Linked DNA regions of Homo sapiens: region 1 is reported to be linked to region 2. Evidence: microRNA targets listed by miRTarBase, many of them from high-throughput screens and not tested one by one. Region 2 holds a microRNA gene; the other region holds the end of a gene's coding sequence.
Evidence for each region. The annotated mature microRNA hsa-miR-4314 reads CUCUGGGAAAUGGGACAG and lies in region 2 at 2,806-2,823, shown strand. An mRNA with a match to its seed (bases 2 to 7 or 8) in the 3' UTR can be bound and repressed. Matches are read on the target gene's strand: a 7mer-m8 pairs with bases 2 to 8, a 7mer-A1 pairs with bases 2 to 7 and ends in A, and an 8mer does both.

Region 1: the mRNA of RNF152 is a reported target of hsa-miR-4314. Seed matches in the 3' UTR shown: 7mer-m8 at 1,115-1,121.

The regions. Positions count from the first base shown.
Region 1 is chr18:61,812,128-61,816,516 of GRCh38, forward strand. It overlaps RNF152 (ring finger protein 152), which reads right to left. Exons shown (of 2, transcript NM_173557.3): 2 at 1-4,389. The coding sequence starts at 4,336. The coding sequence ends at 3,725. Among named protein-coding and RNA genes, the nearest start is that of LINC01544, 66 kb to the left of the region's middle. RefSeq lists an enhancer at 4,100-4,389.
Region 2 is chr17:8,085,261-8,089,584 of GRCh38, forward strand. It overlaps MIR4314 (microRNA 4314), which reads left to right and starts at 2,796; the gene lies at 2,796-2,887. It overlaps ALOX12B (arachidonate 12-lipoxygenase, 12R type), which reads right to left and starts at 2,456. Exons shown (of 15, transcript NM_001139.3): 1 at 2,036-2,456; 2 at 756-960. The coding sequence starts at 2,182. RefSeq lists an enhancer at 1,484-2,232.

The DNA of each region.
Region 1 (4,389 bases), not on the chromosome of region 2:
CTATCACCCAGAACTGCATCGTTCAATATGGCAGCCACTAGACACATAGGGCTATTTAAATTTAAGCTAATTAAAATTAAATAAAATTTGAAATCCAGTTCTTCCCTTGTAGTAACCCCATTTTAACTGCCTAAAAGTCAATGTGCCTGGTGGCTACCGTACCAGACGGCACAGGTTTTCGAGCATTTCCATCATCACAGAAAGCCCTATTGAACAGTGCCAATCTAGAAGATCTCACAGGTTATACCATCACATGGTTTAACCTTCAAGGGACCCAATCTGTAAGCCATGCAAAAAATTAAACTTAATTCTATTTTTAAAGAAAACATCTTAGAGCTTTCTGATCATTAAGTATGACTGGAACCAAAAACCAAGTTGCCTTTTCATCACAACTTATGCCCCAAGTCATTATACAAAATTTTTCCAAAGACAATGCTTCTTAGTAGCATTCTTGGCTCTACTTAACATATTAAGCATTCTCTTCCTTATTTCAAGATCATTAATAAAGATGAAAATTCATGCTTCTTATAGTTTACTATTTATACAACACTCACTGTCCTTTACATACAAGTGGGGTGGGAGGTTTGGACACCAATGTTTTACAATTTTAAAAATTCAAACCACATGGTTTGATAGTTGTCTTTCAACATCTATACTCATCCCTAAGTCAACCCTCCTTTCATTTTCCCAGAGAGGTAGATGCTAACTAAAATGAGTACATAAACCTACAAAAAAAATTCTTTAAAGCAATAGTTGACTCAGTAAAGGGTATTCATCAACCCTAGAAAGGATCATAGCCAGATAGAGATATAGACAGACCTAGGATGGAGCAAGAAGACACTGCAGTGCGAAGTTCATATCCCCCCCTTTCTGCAGAATTACAAAACGGACTCATCTACAAAATGAAGCCACCGGAGGCTGCTTTCAGCTCTTTCTGTGCTTTCCAGTTGTGACTTTTCATTAATGTGCAAGTATGAATCCTGGCCTCTTGTGTCAGTGGACTTTGGTCACATGGGTAGATGTGTTTGTTAAGGGTCATTGGTAAATGCCAGAAGAGGCCAGAGCAATGGGATGCCAAGCAACATTAAAACATCATTAAGCCTATAAAATTCTATCTGGGAGACTGAGATTCTCTCTCTCTCTCTCTCTCTCACACACACACACACACACACACACACACACACACACATACACAAGAATGCACACCCCAACAAACAGGTACACAAATAACTGCAAGCAGATCCATTTAAACAATTTAAACAATGTTTCTTAGGTCAGTAAGACTCACAAAAAAAATCTGATTTTGGTTGTTGTTGTTAAATTTAAGGTCAAGAATCTACCATACAGCCGATTAATTTTGCACTGCTTAATGGCAACTCTAGCATGGGATTGTTTTTAAGTAAAAGTTCTATGGACATTTTTACTCTACAGATTTGCACTAAGAAACACAGGACACTATCATCACACACATTAGTGTCTATATCTAACCTACTTTAACAAGTAGAACTCTATCACGTACTATACTACAGGGTCAGTCATTTCACACTGTACAGAAACATATGCAGATATCACTCACAAAATTAATCTGAATATGGCATAGCTTAAAATTGCAAGGGCAAAGTCTATTCGAAATGTAGCATTCTTAATGCAACACTTCTGTGGTGTGTGTGTGTGTGTATTTTCCTCCAAGAGAAATAGAAATTAGGTCAGACATGCATTATGGCAGCCTGGGAGAGTTTGAGAAATTGACACTAACCCAACAGTATATTATGTTATGTAATAGAGGATAGTATTCAGCTAATATGACACCTAAATTATTAATACCAAATAAATCCTAGATTATTTGTTGTATAATGCCCAAGAGCTTACACAATAAAATGGCATTTTAACCTAATTTCTATTTTGAGCTTTCAAATACATTTCCTAAAGGTTTTATGATCAATTTGAAAAATCAGAGCTCACAATTTTATGTTGAATTCTCATGCCAATTAGCAGTATTAGCTTTGTATTCTAGCCATTATATTTTTGTTTTATTTCACATTAATTCCATCACTTTTATATGCATATTTTGTGCTGCTTGAAGATAACAGACAGCATGTAAATAAATTAAATTGTCTTGACCTCACAGGGCTATTTTCTAGCCTTGCTTTTTGGAATTAGCCCTGCTTGTCTTTCCTTCACTTCCCCCCACCCTCCTCACCATTTTCAGGGATTCAGTGGAACATAAAAACAGTTATATTTATAAGTGGAGTCCTTGTCACATACCACTTGCTTCATGAATTCCATAAAAGAAGTTAGATGAGAGCTGTAAAGCTCACAGCTATTTCTGAATGCACATGCACCCAGGGATAGGAATTTATCACGTACTTGTAGCAGATCTTTCTTCATGAGCATCTATAGATCATTACACATTTAAGAACATTTGACAGTTTATGAGGAACTGGTCCACTTATATTGGGAATTTGAGCTGTTAGTTTACCTTGCCACCTTTCTTGGTAAAAACGTGTTAAAATACAGGAGATCTTCTCTCATATCAACAAGAGGAAACAGGAATTCTAACTGGCTTAACTCTTGTGGAAGAGCATCTTTCAAAAAAGAATCACAGGCCATTTATTAAAATGCCCGCCTGGGTTGACCATCAGTCACAACACTCATGGCCAGTGCAAGACTCCAAAACCAGGAGAAAAGACACTCTTCTGTTACTCTCCATTTGCCTCTTACAAAATGCAGGACTTAAATACACAGAAGAGGAGCGAGTGTTGCAGGTGACGTGTAGGAGACCACTCGCTGGGTCAAGATGTCCAAGAAGTGGCCACCGCTTCAGAGACTTGACTCATTCATGCCCAATGAAGTCTTCATCCCAGGATTCTTCAGCAAAGACTCAAACACCTGAGGTAAATCAAATTAGACACACACACATACACACACAAATACACAATATTTACATTTGAAATTCTTATTTTGTGAGATGGCTTGAGGAAAATCGGCATACAGGTTTTCCCATGGGATTAGACATTTCTCATGATTTCTCGGTTTATTGCTCCCCTGTTGAGCTTTCAGTTCCATAAACACGTAGCAAGCTCTAATTACAAGTGAAGAAAATGAAGGTTCATGACAAAACACAACACATTGGAGACACTTGTTCAAATATTTCCTCCAAATAAAATGACTGTCCATTTTGACTTATTTTGTTTTGGTGCCATTCAAAATGTATTAAAAGCCTTAGCAACTAAATGAAGACTGGGTTTCAATAAAAAGAAAAAAAAAATAAAGAAGCCAGCAGTGCATGTCTTCACTGAATTTTTACACGGATTCGCAGGTTTAATTCTACTTGTCTACAGAGCATCTTTGTTTGAATCTACCGCATTTAGAGAAGGTCACATTGTACGCACTTGTACAGTTTAACGTCTAAGTAGAATATGTCTATCTTGTAACATGATTTTGAAAAATCATAAATTACAGTCCATTGAATACATGATTATGAGGATGCATGCAATCATCTTCCAAGCTGTTGCCATCAACACTCAGAACAATTCACCTGGTATCTTGTTGAGACCGCACCTTCTGCCCTTTGTGTCTGTCTTGGGGTAATCAAGAGGCAACCCAGAGGCCAGCGCTCAGCACCAAATGGTCAGTGTTGCCCCCCATCTTCTCACTGGGATCTCATCATCAACCTGCTCAACCCCTAAGTTGGCACCCACAAGAGACTTCCCTGCAGCCCTCTTCAGCCACAGGATATCACAGTGAAGCGCTTAGAAATGCAAGACATGTTGTGAAGCACGATGCCGAGGAGGAAGACCAAGACGCAAGCCACCAAGATGACAGTGCACACCCCCGACCAGGTGGAGCTTTTCACCACGCCCCGCCTGTCCTGCTCCTCCTCCACCGCCTCCTGGGGAGCCCCACCTTGCAGAGGCTGCTGTTCAGCAGGGATGGTCACCACGGTGACGGACTTCTGCTGGCTCCCGGGCAGCAGGCGGCAGCCCATGTCTCCGGGCAGCAGCGCACGCTCCTTGGAGATGGGCAGGGGCAGCATGTAGCACCCATTGCTGGGAAGTTTGATGAAGACCGGGGTGTGTTCGGAAGTGTGTGGAATGGCGATGACAGCCAGGACCTCCGGGTCGTCCGGGAGCTGCGACACGGAGAAGCCGGGAGGCAGCTTGGTGACACCGCGGCACCAGGGGCACCGCACATCCTTCTGGCTGGTCCTCATCTGCTGCAGGCACACTGAACAGCAGGTGTGCTTGCAGTCCAGCAACTTGGGCCTGCGCCGGGGGCTGTAGTAATTGAAACAGATCTGACATTCCAGCAGAGAGTCCTGGGACAGCGTCTCCATGGTGGACCGTGAGCAGGAAGGGCAAGGCCAAGGTGAAGGGGAAGGAGCTGCTT
Region 2 (4,324 bases):
ACCTGAGTTCAGGAGTTTGAGACCAGCCTGGCCAACAAAGTGAAACCCCATCTCTACTAAAAATGCAAAAACTAGCATCAGGAGGCTGAGGCAGGAGAATCGCTTGAACCTGGGAGGTGGAGGTTGCAGTGAGCCGAGATCGTGCCATTGCACTCCAGCCTGGGCAACAAGAGTGAAACTCCGTCTCAAAAAAAGAAAGCCAGGGCGTCATAATTATAAGACCGCAGCACCACGGAGACCTGTTGAACTCAAAGGGCTTCTAAATGGGATAGCAAGGTGCTGGTTGGAATAATGGGGCATCCTGTTATAGTAACAGAATCCTGCTGGAGTAACAGGGCGTCTTTCTGGAGCGCATATGATTGGCATCATAAATAGGCCTCCTGTGAGAGTCCTGAGCCTGTACTTAGCATCACAAGGGGTATTTTTAACGTGGCCGGGCATCTTATAGGAGTCAGGGAGGACTGGAGAGGTAGCGGGGAGCGCACTCTGGGAATGCTGTCTGCTGCCAGATGGGGATGCTGAGGGTAGCTGCTGGGCCTCAGGCACCTCTCTTCCTCCAATGTGCAGCCCCAAGCTGAGCTCAGGGCAGCAGCACTGACTGAGGGAAATGTGTGACAGTGGCAGGAGAGCCCAGGAGTCCCTGGTGGGGCTGGGCCCCCCTCTGGCTTGATGGGAGCCTGGGTGCCATGCCAGGGTAGCAGGCTGGAGCTAGAGGCCTCACGGCCATAGGATGGAGCAGGGTGATGAGGGCTTACCTGTGGCCTCCCGGAGTGCCAGGGTCTCGTAGCCATCCATCCACTGGTAGGCGGGGAAGTGGTAGATACGGCCGTTGGGGGCACAGATCTGCACATAGTTGCAGTACCAAGGGTCCTTGGGGAAGAAGGCGTACCGCTCTTTGTGCAGGCGGATGATGATGAGCTCACCCAGGTCCTGAGGGCACTGCACGGTGTACTGGCCCACCTAGGCAGGATGCAAGCCTGGCTGAGTGGGCAGGACTTCACCCCGGCTCCCAGGCCGCCCACCCCTCTGGCCCCTCACCTAGGCCCTGCTCATGCTGCGCAATGCTCACCTCCCTGGACTGACGGAGGGACAGGATATTGACCTGATCATTGAGCTTCCTTCTGACTTCTCCAGCTTGGGGGTCTCCTACTGGATTCCTCTACCCAGGGCTATGTAGGACTCCAGCCCCTCCTTCTCTCCATCCCCAGCTCCTGTCTTCTCCCACTCCCCTCTCCAGGCACCTGAGGTTGCAGGAACCCTTCAGACCCCTGGGGACTTGGGTACCACTCTACAGTTTTCGAGTGGGGAGAGGCCCAGCCAGCCCCTTCTCCCATTCATCAATGAAGATGCAGATATTCAGAATGGCCACATAGATAGAGTGACCTATTAAGGTCGCCTAGCAGCAGGTGGCTGGGTCTGACTGAAAATCAGGTCTGAGGACCCGCAAAGCGTGCCTTCCACTGGACAGGCTGGTCTGATGCCATTTTAAGTCACAGAGAATCCAGTGCAAATGTGAGACAGTTAGGAGGCAGCTGAATTAGGAAGAGTGACTGAGAATGGAAGAGAGAGGGATGCGGGAGAGGGGGTAAGACAGAAAGGGGAGGAGAGCAAAGGGGAAGGAAAGCAGGTGGAAAGGATTGAGAAAAGAGAGATGCAGGATAGGCAGAGACAGGGAGAGAGGGCTGAGGAAGAGGGAGAGAGAAGAAAAGGATGGGGAGGGAGATGAGGAATGCCTGAAAGGGTTAGAGATGAAGGAGCAGGATGGAGAAGGATGGCCCAGAGATCTGGGACATGGGCGAGGGGCTGGAAGCCAGCTCTGGACAAGGCGTGTAGAGCCACTGGGGAGCCCACTGCCTTCGGAGCTGTGCCTCAGCTCTCCAGCCTCTCCTCGCCAAGCTCAGCTCACCTGGCTCCCCCTGCGCACCTTCACCCCTCCCGGGGCCACAAAGACACACAGACACACACAGACACACACAGACACACACACACACACACACAGACACACACACACACACACACACACACACACTCTTACCGCCCCAGTTGCAAAGTCTCTCCCAAAGTGGTTCAGCAGCTGCTTATGGCTCTCTCCTTGTGTCCCCACAATGGTCAGTGAGATGGAGTCCCGTGTTCCCGACAAGAGGTCGGTGCCTGTGGCCACCCTGACTTTGTAGGTGGCCATGGCTGCTCTTCAGGAGGCAAGAGGGGCACTCAGTCCCAGACACCGTGGAGGGGCCACACGAAGGCCCAAGGCAGGCAAGAGAAGCCAGGCACAGAGTGGAGTGGACAGGGCTGGCCTCCGAGGTGCAGTGGTGAGGTGGCGAGGTGGGGTGACTAGGCCTGCCAGCCAAATTCTGGAAAAGCTGCTGCCCTTGGTGGCCGGGGTGGGTGCCGGGCAGGCCCAGGCGGAGCCCAGCTGGTGGTGAGTGAGCAGGTGTCTGGGCTCCAAGCCTTCTGGGAGCTGGTGGGGAGGAAGAGCAGGCAGGGCACTGGGCCTGCCTCTGAAAGGGCGGATAGAAGATGCCGTGGATGAAGGCGCCTTCAGGGTGGGGGAGCCAGTCCAGCCTGAGCCAGGGCCCTAGGGAAGTTGCGGGAGGGGGCAGGGTGTGGTCCCCAGATCTTTATCAGACTAATAAGCTCCTTCCTCCTGCCAGTCCCCATTGGCTACAGTGCCAGGCACCCCTACTAAGCAGGGCCATGGGCAGTGAGTGACTTGCATTGGTTCTGAGGCCACTGGTGGGCGGGGGAGGGGAGGGGGAGGGGCACTAAGTGGCAGCGCAGCTGGCCAGCCTCCAGGCCATTCCTCTCTGGGAAATGGGACAGGTAGTGGCCACAGTGAGAAAGCTGGCCTGTCCTTCTGCCCCAGGGCCCAGAGTCTGTGACTGGAAGGGTGGGAGGTGTTGAAGCTAGGGCTCGGGGACCACATGGGTGCCCAAAGGCCTGAAGATGCTGCGGGGAGGAACGATCAGGGTAGGAGAAGGGGATCTGTTGCTTCCTGTGGGGCCAGGATCCACTGGTGAGGGATTGGAGTTGGATATAAAATCAGAAGCCCAAAAAAAAAAAAAAAAAAACTAAATTAGAAGACAGAGTGAAATCTGGGGCATAAGAATTAAGTTAAATAGCTGGGCGTGGTGGCTCACGCCTGTAATCCCAGCACTTTAGAAAGCCAAGGCAGGTGGGTCACCTGAGCTCAAGAGTTCGAGACCAGCCTGGCCAACATGGTGAAACCTTGTCTCTACTAAAAATACAAAAATTAGCCAGGCGTGGTGGCATGCGCCTGTAGTCCCAGCTACTTGGGAGGCTGAGGCAGGAGAATCGCTTGAACTCAGGAGGCGGAAGTTGCAGTGAGTTGAGATCGTGCCACCGCACTCCAGCCTGGGCAACAGAGCAAGACTCCGTCTCCAAAAAAAAAAGACAAAAGAATTAAGTTAAATAATGGATTAATATGATCAATATTTTGTGGTATAATCATAAAATAGAATTCTACCCAGGAATAAAAAGAATGAACTGCAATGCGGATGAGTCTCACAAAGATGATACTGAGCAAAAAGAGCCAGACATTAAAGGGGATACGTTCTGTTATCCATTGATAGGAACTTCCAGAACCAGCAAAACTGAGCAATTCTCAGACAACCTCTACTGGTGAGTATCCCTGGCAGAGGGAGGCCATATAGGCTGCTGGAGGTGTTCTTATCTTGATCTGAGGGGCGTCTAGGGTACTTCATTCATTTCATTATGTGTTATCCTTTAATTTCATAAAGTACATACCCTCACTTCCCTCCCAAAAAAGAATGAAGCTAGGAAGAGGGCTGGAGGCAGGGCTGAGCTCCAGTGGAACTGTGTTTGTTGGGAACCAGGTCGTTCCTCCCTCAGATATGTAGTGAGCACGGTGCACGGCGTTCTAGGCACTGCAGAGGCAGAGAAGAAATGAAACATACATGGAGCTTACGGAATAGCTGGGAAAGAAGTGAAAGAAACAGTAAACAAGAATTTGTTCACTATAATTTTGGATACTAAGTGCTCTGAAGAAAATAAGCGTGGGAGGTTGGGATTGGGAACTAGTTGCTGATAGAATCACAGAAGTCAGAGCCGCAGGATAGGGAGAAGGTGTTAGGAGTAAGGTGAAGAGCATTATGAGAGAGTCAGAGATAGACTCTCCAAAGATAGGATTTGGGACCCAGGGAGAGTGAGGAGGCAGGCACGTTCCTATTCCCTTTTTCTGGACCTGTCCTCTTTCCTTTCACCTCCGAGGAGCAGCTTCTGTCAACCAGGAAGCATAGCCCTGCTTTCCTCCCTGATGGCACGCTTCCATCACCATCGAAGG